2 separate regions of the Homo sapiens genome follow, and region 1 is linked to region 2. The links come from fine-mapping of genetic effects on gene expression. A gene starts in region 2. The other region holds a variant in brackets. All regions are shown on one strand. Distances are between the middles of the regions. Region 1 holds the start of LOC124905112 (a long non-coding RNA gene). Region 2 holds the start of IFT27 (intraflagellar transport 27).

The links. PIP is the estimated chance that this variant, and not a neighbour inherited with it, causes the effect.
Region 1: its variant is the best candidate, but not a certain one, in a credible set for the expression of IFT27 in whole blood (INTERVAL, PIP 0.65).

The regions. Positions count from the first base shown.
Region 1 is chr22:36,743,415-36,748,781 of GRCh38, forward strand. All of the region lies in intron 2 of CACNG2-DT (CACNG2 divergent transcript), which reads left to right. It overlaps LOC124905112 (a long non-coding RNA gene), which reads right to left and starts at 2,927. Exons shown (of 3, transcript XR_007068090.1): 1 at 2,765-2,927; 2 at 1,398-2,508; 3 at 761-1,187. The variant T/TAA (reference allele first, on the strand shown) is at 2,955.
Region 2 is chr22:36,773,299-36,778,665 of GRCh38, forward strand. It overlaps IFT27 (intraflagellar transport 27), which reads right to left and starts at 2,821. Exons shown (of 7, transcript NM_001177701.3): 1 at 2,376-2,821. The coding sequence starts at 2,409. RefSeq lists silencers at 2,383-2,442, 2,573-2,622 and enhancers at 2,521-3,084, 2,863-3,122, 3,650-4,213.

The DNA.
Region 1 (5,367 bases), 30 kb before region 2:
CCTGAACACTTATCTCAGGGTCTGTCTTTGGAGGAAACAAAACTAAGAAACTATTAAGTATCCCATTTGCTGGATGAAGGAACTGAGGCGCAAAGAAGTTAACACAGAGTAGCCAGGAAAAACAAAACTGAAGGAAGGTCTTTGAAATGAAAGTGCCAAAAATGCGTGTGTGTGTGTGTGTGTGTGTGTGACACAGACAGCCAGGAGATGGCGGTGGGGGTAGTGAGGCGAGATGAGCCTGGTGAGGTGCGTGCACACCAGGGCAAGGATTTGGGTCACTAACTAGGGGCACGGGAGGCCTCTGAAGGCTTTAGACAGGCAGGGTGACATGTTATGACGTGAGAACACAGGCACCCTGGAGACCTAGGCGAACCTGGATTAAAAGGGTCCAAGCAGATGTAAGGAGGTGATTAGGAGGCTTCGGTGGTCATTCTAGGGGGCCCTGGGGACCTGCCGGGCAGGGGCCACTGAGCTCTTCGTGATCTCCAGAGCCCTGGGGTCCACATGCAGACCAGGACACAGTGTGTGTCCTAAGGAGGACATGCACTGCCTGCCTCTGTCCCTCCCCTCCCCAAACCCCTTCCCCTTCCTCTTAGGTCATGGAGACCCTCCATACTCCCACCTCAGGGTCTCTGGCCTGGGGACAGTGTGGGCTGGGGAGCCAGGCACCCCTGCAGCCTGGCCAGGCTGGGAGCTGCAGCAAGAAGGCCAGCCAGACCTCCTGACCAGCAGCCGGCCAGGCCCCAGAGGCGAGCACGTGTCTGGGCGGGTGCCACTGTCTGCCCCAGTGCCCTGAGCTCGCCGCACTGCCGAGCAGATGGCCTTGTAAGTGAGTGCGATCAGAACAGGGTCAGGAGGGTCTGCTGGTCCTACCTTCTCCTCCACCTCTGCTGGGTTCCACTGCCTTGGCCGCTGTCCTGGAGGTGTTGACCAGCTTGGCTGGCCAGGGGCGCCGTGCAGTCAGGTGTGGCAAACTGTGGTGTGATATGACCCAGGCGTCCAGTCATGCAGGGTGCAGGGGACACGGATCCTGGGGGCTCTGGTGAAGCTGAGGCAGGACTGGAGTGGGGGAAAGTGGTAGGAGAGTGGCAAGGGGCATTGGCCACCCTGCAGTCACCTCGGGGAGCTCCTGACTGCACGTTGAGCCCCTGAGTGTGTGGCTTGAGGTGTCGGCAGGACTGGTGTCCCTAGGGAGGAGCAGAAGGGAACTGGAATTTGCTGGGGGCTTACTATGTGCCTGGTCTTCAGTAGCTGCTTCCTTGGGTTATTACTGGCCCCTTGCCCCACTTCAGAAGCCCTCCCTCCACCCTTCTTGGGGGACTTTTTCTCCAACCCTCCAGGCTAGGGGTTCCAGCTCCCCCGGTTCACAGTGTTTATGACCTGGGTCTTCCTTTTACCCTGGGACAGGCCCTGAAGGACAGCAGTTTCTCTGCAGGCCTTTCCTCCAGCATCTCCAGCCACAGGGTCCTTCCCGGGCACCTGCTTGTCTGCTTGAGCTGCTTCTTTGTGAGCAAATGAATAAAGGTTCTATGCGAGTCCCACTCCCTGCATGCGAGAGTAATCAGCTTCACCTTTCTGAGCCTCAGCTTCCTCATCTGTAAAATGGGCAAAATCACTCCCACCGGCCGGGTGCGGTGGCTCACACCTGTAATCCCAGTACTTTGGGAGGCCGAGGCAGGCGGATCACCTGAAGTCAGGAGTTCGAGACCCTAACACGGTGAAACCCCGTCTCTACTAAAAGTACAAAAATTAGCCGGGCGCAGTGGCATGTGCCTGTAGTCCCAGCTACTCAGGAAGTTAAGGCAGGAGAATCACTTGAACCCAGGAGGTAGAGGTTGTAGTGAGCGGAGATCGTGCCACTGCACTCCAGCCTGGGCGACAGAGCAAGACTCTGTCTAAAAAAAAAACACACACACACACACACAAAACAAAAAACAAATCACTCCCACCTTGAAAGGTTGTTGCAAGGATTAAAGAAGATGAAGGAGGTGGAAGCCTGGCACAGAGGAAGTGCTGATCAGAGGCGCACTGCCAGCCATGTGGCTGGGGCAAGTCTCTGCACCTCTCTGAGCCTCCCTGCCTCAGCCCTAAAGTAGCCCTGCCCTGCACAAGGAAGGGAGGGAGAGAAGGGAAGCTGACATAGTGTGTGAGCTGCGAGGGTTGTGCACTGGGACAGCTTGGGCCTGTATCTTCCCATCCATGTGATTTGAGGTTTGGGTAGGTGAAGGCATCTCCCTGCTCCACCCAGCACTGGCAGTCCAGGGATCTTGGAGCCCCCCTGACCCACGTGGCTCTCCCTCCCTCCATTACTCACCTTTCTTTGGGCCTTTGCACTGCTTTTGCAACCCGGTAGGGGCTGGTGCCGGGCCCGTCTTGCATGAGGCCCCAAGGCTGCCCATGCTGTGTGGGGGAGGAGTGGGATCCCTACTTTACCTCAAGGCTCAGCCCTGGGCAACACCGCCATATCCTGGTGTCTGCCACTCTCTCGGGAGTTGGGAGTCCCAGAGGCTGCAAGAGAAGGGAACATGTGGCAACTCCAGAAGGGTGAGGACAGAGAAGGGGGCTCTGCTGAGAGCTCCTGCTGCAGGCTGGGGACTGCTGTAGCCACCCCCTCTGAAATGCAGTGAGAACAGCTGCCCTGGCCAGGCCCCCACTATGTGCTCGGCGTGCTCCTACGGCACGTCTCACCTTCACAGTGGCCCAGCAAGGGAGTAACAACCATCCCATTTTACAGATGGGGAAGCTGAGGTTCCAATAGACTCACCCAAGGTAATTCCCAAGTGTGTCTGGCTGCTTCCACCATTCCACGGGCTGCTGTTATCATAGAATCAATGTCAAGCTGGGCGCAGTGGCATGCACCTGTGATCTCAGCTACTCGGGAGGCTGAGGCAGGAGGACTGCTTGAGGTCAGGCGCTCAAGATCAGCCTGGGCAATATAGCGAGACTTGGTCTCT[T/TAA]AAAAAAAAAAAGCAAAAGAGAAAGAGAGAGAATCACTGGTCTTTTCTAACCTACCATTTTCCAGAGGGAGTGAGCCCCCAGGGAGTGGCTGGGTCATAACAACAGCAATGGTGGAGGGAGGACTCCCTCCTCCACCCCTCCCTTTTGGTCTTCTGCAGCTGTTTATGGACGTTCTCCTTGTGCAGGCGTTGTTCCCATCCTGAGTTCCAATCCGACTCTGGCTCACACCACATGCCTCCTAGGAGTGCCCATCACACGCCGGCCAAGGCGTGTGTGAGGTCCTCCCTGAAGGGTGGTGGACAGAGGTTCAAGCTAAAACACAGGTCTATCAGCCCAGCCGAGGAGGCCCTGGAGAGGCTGCTGGGGGGTCAGACAGCACAGGTTCCCCTCACCCCCCGCCCCAGGCCAGTCCTGCACCTCGCTGAGCCTTGGTGCTCTGTAACTGTCTCATGAGTGAAGGCATGAATGAGGGAAACCGTGAGGACACCCAATCCCTTAACTCCAACTCCAAAATTACATCACCCCCTCCCTCAACCAACACCCTTCAGCGGCCTCCCCCTGCACATCAGGTAACTCCCAAGCTCTGGCTGGGCTTCTGATGCCTCTTCTTATTTATTTTATTAGTTTATTTTATTTATTTTATTTTTTGAGATGGAGTCTTACCCTGTCACCCAGGCTGGACTGCAGTGGCGTAATTCCGGCTCACTGCAACCTCCACCTCCCAGGTTCAAGCAATTCTCCTGCCTCAGCTTCCCAAGTAGCTAGGATTACAGACGCCCGCCACCGCGCCCAACTAATTTTTGTGTTTTTAGTAGAGTTGGAGTTTCACCATGTTGGCCAAGTTGGTCTTGAACTCTTGACCTCCAGTGATCCACCCGCCTCAGCCTCCCAAAGTGCTGGGATTACAGGTGTGAGCCACTGCGCTCGGCTGGAAACTCTTTTCCCCGTGCTCCCTTCACTCAGTGCCCAGGAGTTCTGGCCTTTTGTGGGCCAACCTCCTCTGCCGCAGGACCCTCAAACATGCTATTTCCTCTGGCTAATGTACAACTCCCCGTTCACTGCCTGACTCCTGCTCCTTCATGTCTCCACAGAGAGGCTGCTGCTGGACACCTCCTCCCTGCTAAGACTCCTTTGGAGTCTTGTATAGAGGGTTCTGTTCTTTTCTTTCCAGTGATTTTTACAACCTGTGGTTTTCTACGGGATTGCAAACTGACTTATTGTCTCTCTCCCTCACCAGCTTGTGTGCTCCATGGAGCAAGGAGTAGGAGGCTCATCTGCCCTGTCCAGCTCTTAAGCCCCTGCACCTACAGCGGGGCCTGGCTGGTGGCTGGTGGTCAAAAAGCCAGGGCCTGTTGAGACACAGGGGCTCTGTGTCGAGGCTGCTCCTTAAACGCTTCTTGCCTGCACGCTGTGCGTGGAAACCCAAAGAAGTGAGAGACGCGAGGACTCCAGGGATTGCTAACCCACTAGTGTCATGCCAGAGGCCCCAAGGCAAAGGCGCTCTCAGCCAGGGCAAGAGACCGACTGGGCTCAGGCCTCCTAGCCCCTGCTGGGCCTCTCTCCAGTCCTCTCTGGGGCCATGGCAAGCCACTCTTCCCAGGGGTCACTCACCGGGGACCCAGGCCTCCTAGTCCCAGAGCTCCTTTGGACGAAGGGTGGAGGGCAGCAGACTCCACCCCTGGGATTATCCAGGATAGGGTCACAACAGCAGCGGCAACAACCGAAACAATAGGGTGAGCGGCGAGTGTCCCACTCAGCAGGGGCTGGGGGGTCTGCAGCTATCGCCAGGCTGTGAACCCTCAGCAAACATCTGAAGTAGGTGATGTTAGGGCCCAGAGAGGCGAAGTGACTTGTCCAAGGCCACTCAGTGAGGTAGAGCTGAGCAAAGACTCGCACCCAGAGGCTGTGTGATTCCAAAGCCTTGGGTGCCGCGTGCAGGTGAAACCGCCCCACATTGCTTCTCGACCGTCACCACCTTCTGCCCCTGAGATCAGCAAGCACCTGCAGGGAGGTGGTTGGGAAGGGCCTGACCTTCCTCTGGAGGTTTCCTGAGATTCACAGAGTCTGACGGTAGCTGTGACATCGCTAGGAGCCTGCACTGGGGAACGCAGGTCATGGGCCCATTGCGTCCTCAGCCGTAACGTAAAACAGTTGCCTTGGCTTCCTGGGGTGGCTGTGAAGGTTGAGTGAGAGGAAACACGCTGGAAGAGGCTTTGGGGGAGATTCTGGGAGCACAGTGTGGCTCACAGGGGTTCAAGCCCCTGCTTGTACCTTGCATTCAGCTTGCCCCTGGGCAAGGTTGCTGCTGTTGGAATCTACAATGAGGCAATGAGCCAGGAGGCAAAAAAGACTCACAGATGTCGAGAAGGAGCCTGAGGTCACAAGAAGCAGCCAAGTGTCATGTCATCTGTC
Region 2 (5,367 bases):
AGTGAGCTAAGGTTGTGCACCACTGCACTCCAGCCTGGGAGACAGAGTGAAATTACGCCTCAAAAAAAAAGGTCCGGGCACAGTGACTCACGCCTGTAATCCCAGCACTTTGGGAGGCCGAGGCGGGCAGATCACCTGACGTCAGGAGTTCAAGACCAGCCTGGCTAACATGGTGAAACCCAGTCTCCACTAAAAAATACAAAAAATTAGCTGGGTATGGTGGTGGGCGCCTGTAATCCCAGCTACTTGGGAGGCTGAGGCAGAAGAATCGCTTGAACCCAGGAGGTGGAGGTTGCAGTGAGCTGAGATTGTGCCATTGCACTCCAGCTTAGGCAATGAGAGTGAAACTCCGTCTCAAAAAAAAAAAAAAAAAAAATAGAAGGACACAGAGGAGCACTACTTGAGGACAGAGTAGCTTGGGCTAAAGCCCTGGAAATCAGATTGGGACCCAGGGTCTGGATCATACAGCTCTGCCACTTCCAGCTCTGTGACCCATGGCAAATGTTCTCATTTTTCTGGGCCTCAGTTGCCTCATCTGTAAATGAGGATGGCAATAATGCCAATCCCACAGGGTTGCTATGAGGATTCAATGAGACCACCTGTATTGAGGGTCTAGCAGAGCTGATGCACCCAAAGCGCCAGTAAGTTAGCTCCATGATGAAAACCGAATTTAAAAAGAACCCAGAGAGAAGCCCATTTAAAAAAAAAAGTAACTTCAGAAAATAATGTTCCCACCTTATCCATAAGGAAATTAAAGCTCAAAAAGTGCTTCGTCCAAGATGACACAGCCAATAAGAGGAACAGGCAAAATTACTTTTGTTACACAACACTGCCTCCTCTGGTGCTCTGGAAACTGGAGATTCTCCTGAGAACCATTAATTTATTTTGCTCCAGTATGATTCAGTTACTACTGTCAGTCATCTTTCTGTGTGACCCTTTTATTTTCAAATTATAAAAGCCATTAAAAATATTATCATTTATTCTCAGTCTGGAAGAGGGGAATTTTTTAAAACAGGAATCTCTTTTTCTCTATATAATTTCTCACCACTTCTTTCCTGAGCTGGCCAGGGAAGCCTGGAAAGGTCACAGGTTTCAACAGAAACACGAGTTAAGAGTTTTGGAGTTGGCCAGATCTAGGGGCTGAAATCCTGCATAGGGCCTTCACTAGGGGTTGACCTTGGCTGACATCTCTCAGTGCCTCAGTAAGATCAGAACAATCCAGTACCTGGCCGGGCGCAGTGGCTCATGCCTGTAATCCCAGCACTTTGGGAGGCCGAGGTGGGTGGATCACCTGAAGTCAGGAGTTCGAGACCAGTCTGGCCAACATGGTGAAACCCCAGCTCTATTAAAAATACAAAAAAAAATTAGCCGGGCATGGTGGCTTGCGCCTGTAATCCCAGCTACTTGGGAGGCTGAGGCAGGGGAATTGCTTGAACCAGGGAGGTGGAGGTTGCAGTGAGCCGAGATTGCGCCACTGCCCTCCAGCCTGGGCAACAGCGTGAGACTCCGTCTCAAAAAAAAAAAAAAAAAAGAAAAACAATCCAGTACCTAGCCCAGTGTGCTATGGTGAGACGATTACATGAAATATGTGTGCTTCACATGCAGTAAGCACTCAGTAACATGCATATGTGTTTCGCAGTCTATAATCCAAAATATTGTTTTTCTAAATGTGCAGACTGATACAAGGGGTACACTACAAATGTGCATGCCACATATTCACATATTCATCCATTCTAAAAGTATTTATTGAGTACCTACTATGTTCCAGGCATTGTTCTGGGTGCTTGGGATGTATCAGTCAACAAAACAAAGATTCCTGCCTTTGGGAGACTCAACATTTATGCCCTTCTTGGAGTGGGGCAGCACAGTAACTTTGGGTCTTAAAGACAACACACAAGTGCCTTTTGCAAACTCTGGTCACTACACTCAGGTCACCGTTATCAGAGGGGGTGAGGTCGGGGGAAAAATCCCATAGTAAAGACTACCAAAGTCACTGATGCCTAACTTTGGGGTACAGTATATGTTTAGCTGAAGCACTCAAGGTTTGCTTAAGCTTTGTTTGTTTTGTTTTGTTTTAACAAGTCTGCTTCTCCAGAGTTGTAACTAGTGATTTTTTAACGAGTCACCTCAACTGGTGAAGGTGGTCTCAGAGTATGTGACAGGGAGCAGGGGGAAATCCACTGGAGCTGCGAAGTGCCCTGGAAGATCATTCTTCCACGCCTAACGTAATTTACTGTATCAGTAATTGCAGTAACTCGCCTTTGGGAGAGAGAAAGGAAAAGGTAGGCAATTTAGGTGAACAAAAGCTCTGGATGAATTATGAAGGCTCTGGACTCCAGAGACCACCGTATTCAAGCGCAAGTTTTCAGACTCACCTGCCAGGATGCATTTGGCTGCCAGCTTCACCATGGTAACCAACACTCCCGCGAGCCGTACCCAGAGGACAAGAGCGGCTGCTAGAGACGCGAGTGGGTGGGCTTCGGGCCCTGGGCTGGCCTGGGACGGGAAGGTGGGGAGGGGAGGGCTGATCTCAAGGGTCAGTGGCCGCGACGGGACTGGGGATGACCGAGCCCGGCCCTTCTGGGCCGGGGGCGGATATCGGGCGCTGGGGGCGGGTGGGCAGGGGAGGGCTCCAGGTGGGCCCGGCTCGAGGCCTGACACGGCAGTCTGAAAAGGTGCAAGCGAGCGGACACGGCCTGTGCTCCCCGCCCAGCCCCTCAGCACAGCCCTACCCAGAGGGTTCAAGGAAGGACGATCCGGCTCTCCTCCGATCACAAGTACCGGGCCGGATGCACTCTCCAAGCAACCATAGCCCACCTGCCCCGCCTCCTCCTCCTCCTCGCTGACCCTCGATTGGTTGCCGCCAAAAGCTCCCACCCTCAAGGTCTCACAAAAATCCAATGGGAGTAGAGAGCTGGGATAACAGCCTTTTCTTGAGATGCAATTCGTAGAGTTATCAGTTCTTCAAGTTCAGTCTGCTTGACGAGTGGTTGTAATTGACGTCAACCAGCTTTATATCCCGCCCCCGCTGCGCCTGAGAGTCCCGAGATAAAGAAGCCTCCACGTCAAGCAGTCAGAAGCGGTGACAAGAGAAGCTTTCTGATTGGTCAGAGTCTGGCTTGACCCATCTTCGGGAGGAATAGGGATTCGCCACTCCCGCTGTCCTTCTAGAAGTGGGTTCGCCTACAATGGGGCAGGTTGGGCTCTAGGCGGTCTGGAGCGGCGCCTGCGCAGTGGGCCAGGCCGCCGCTGTAGAGGTCGTTTTGACTTGCTCTGACTTCGCGCGGTTCTCGCGGCTTCCCCGGTTCCCGGGTTCTGCACAGCGCGGCTATTAAAGTGCATGGAGAAGTGCAGTCCTTGCCCCGCATCCCGCAGGGAAATCTCATTTTAAAAGCTCAAAGATGTAATGAGCGTTAAAATCTAAAATATGAAGGTGTTTTATTAAAGTGATGTTTGTGAACAAAGGGAGAACAAATACACTTTGATGGGGCTAAGCGGTGAGACTCGGAAACTTGAAGTCGTACTTTGCTCTTAGTCCATTTACTCTCTGCAAAAGGAGAATGCATCACTAACCTCGTTTGCCCGTCACCCAGGGAGGCTCTCTGTACGCGTTTACTGGGTTGGGGGTGCCTCTTGCACGTGGTTAGGGGGTCAGAGACCTAAATCCCTGGCCTGGACAAGTCACCTCATCCCTCAGCCTCAGGATGGGCCTAGGAGAACCCGCCTTGTGGGGTGGTTGTGGAGATGGAAGGAGAGAAACGTATGAGTGCCTGGGAGATAGTAGGTGCACACGTGATTGTGGGGTGGATGGGAGAGCGGAAGCTTATCTGGACAGATTTGGTTTATCATCACTGTCACTGGTTGGCCGAATGTACCCCTTGTTCTCACTTTCTCAGGGCCCCTGGGATTCTGATGGCTGATGCTGAAGGGAAGAGCAGCCCCTCAGCAAAGGTGCCTGTGCGAAAGTTCCACATTCCCTCCAGACACCTAGAACATTCCACCTCTCCGCCACTCTGCATCTCAGAGTGGCTGCCAGCCTTGTGTGGGGGAATAAACACACACACTCTATGAATGGCTGATGGTTTCAGCCCCGAATCCAGAGTAAATGCAAGTTGTCTGAGATGTTCTTTCCTTGGGATTCATTCCTGGCGCTACGGTAAAGGTCTGTTTCTCCTTCATTTCTCGTAACTGCTTTTCTTCTTTGGTGACATCACGTGAGTCTGTCTCAGACATCCAGGTCTGAGTGAGCAAAAAGCCTCTTTCTGGTCTTCTGCCTTCCTCTTGCCGGCTCCCCTCCAGGCCAACCTGTTCACCATGAGTGACCCTGTTAATCCCTTAAAGGACCCCATTTGGTGAGTCACCCTCCCGAGGCAGCTCCACGTAGCTAAGACACAGACACACATCAGGGCAGCCTCCGAAGCCTTGGTTCCTTCATTTTGCGAGGTGGGTAATGACAGAGCCGGAGCATAGCCATCTTGGACAAGCACTGCCATTTTAAAGTTCTCCTTGATCAAAAACGGCCTAAATTCAACCCAAAGGGCATCAGCCTAATGGCTAATGTCAGAATGACCATAAACCACAAGTGACATCTCCAATCAGAAACATTCCAACCCTAAGATAAACCCACCCCCCGACCAGAGACATGCAGCCCCAAGATAACCTCCCCTCTGGTCAGAGAGATGTCAGCCCCAACATAACCCACCCTCAGACCGGAGACATTCCAACCCCACAGTAAACTTCTCCTCCACACAGAAACATTCCAAGCCTGTGGTAAGCTCTCTTGCCCTAAACCCTTAAATACTCTTAGTCTGTAAGAGAGAGCACTCCTGACTGAAATTGGCCAGAAGCCCCTCTCAGGTTTATGCTCCAAAATAAACCTGTATTTAACTGTTGAGCCACTTTTCATGTTTCTTGCCTCTTTCTTTAACTCTTGCAGGTAATAATCACACCTCCCTCCCAGGGCTGTTCTCTGTTCCCCACCCACTGTCTCCCTTTTGTTGCTGCTACTCTGTGTGATTTTAGTCAGCATTATCATAAGAGCATTGTAGAACTTTCTAGAGAGATGGTAAACACTTGTATGGTGAATTCTGTCCCCCTTCACCTCATGGACCCAAGGGCCTTCTATACATTTCTGTGACTGAAGGTAAGCTGAATGAGAGTCACTAGGTTTAAGGTGGTCAGAGAATTTTGGAGCCATGGGGGCTCCTGAGCAATTCGAGTTATCCCATTTCTGAGCAGCTCTAATAGTCACAGCTGGCCTATGTTGACCACAGACTTAAGGCTGGCCTTGTTCTAAGTGATTTTAGGGATTAATTAGTTTAATTTCACATTTACATTTGATATTCACAATAACCATGTATCATCCCC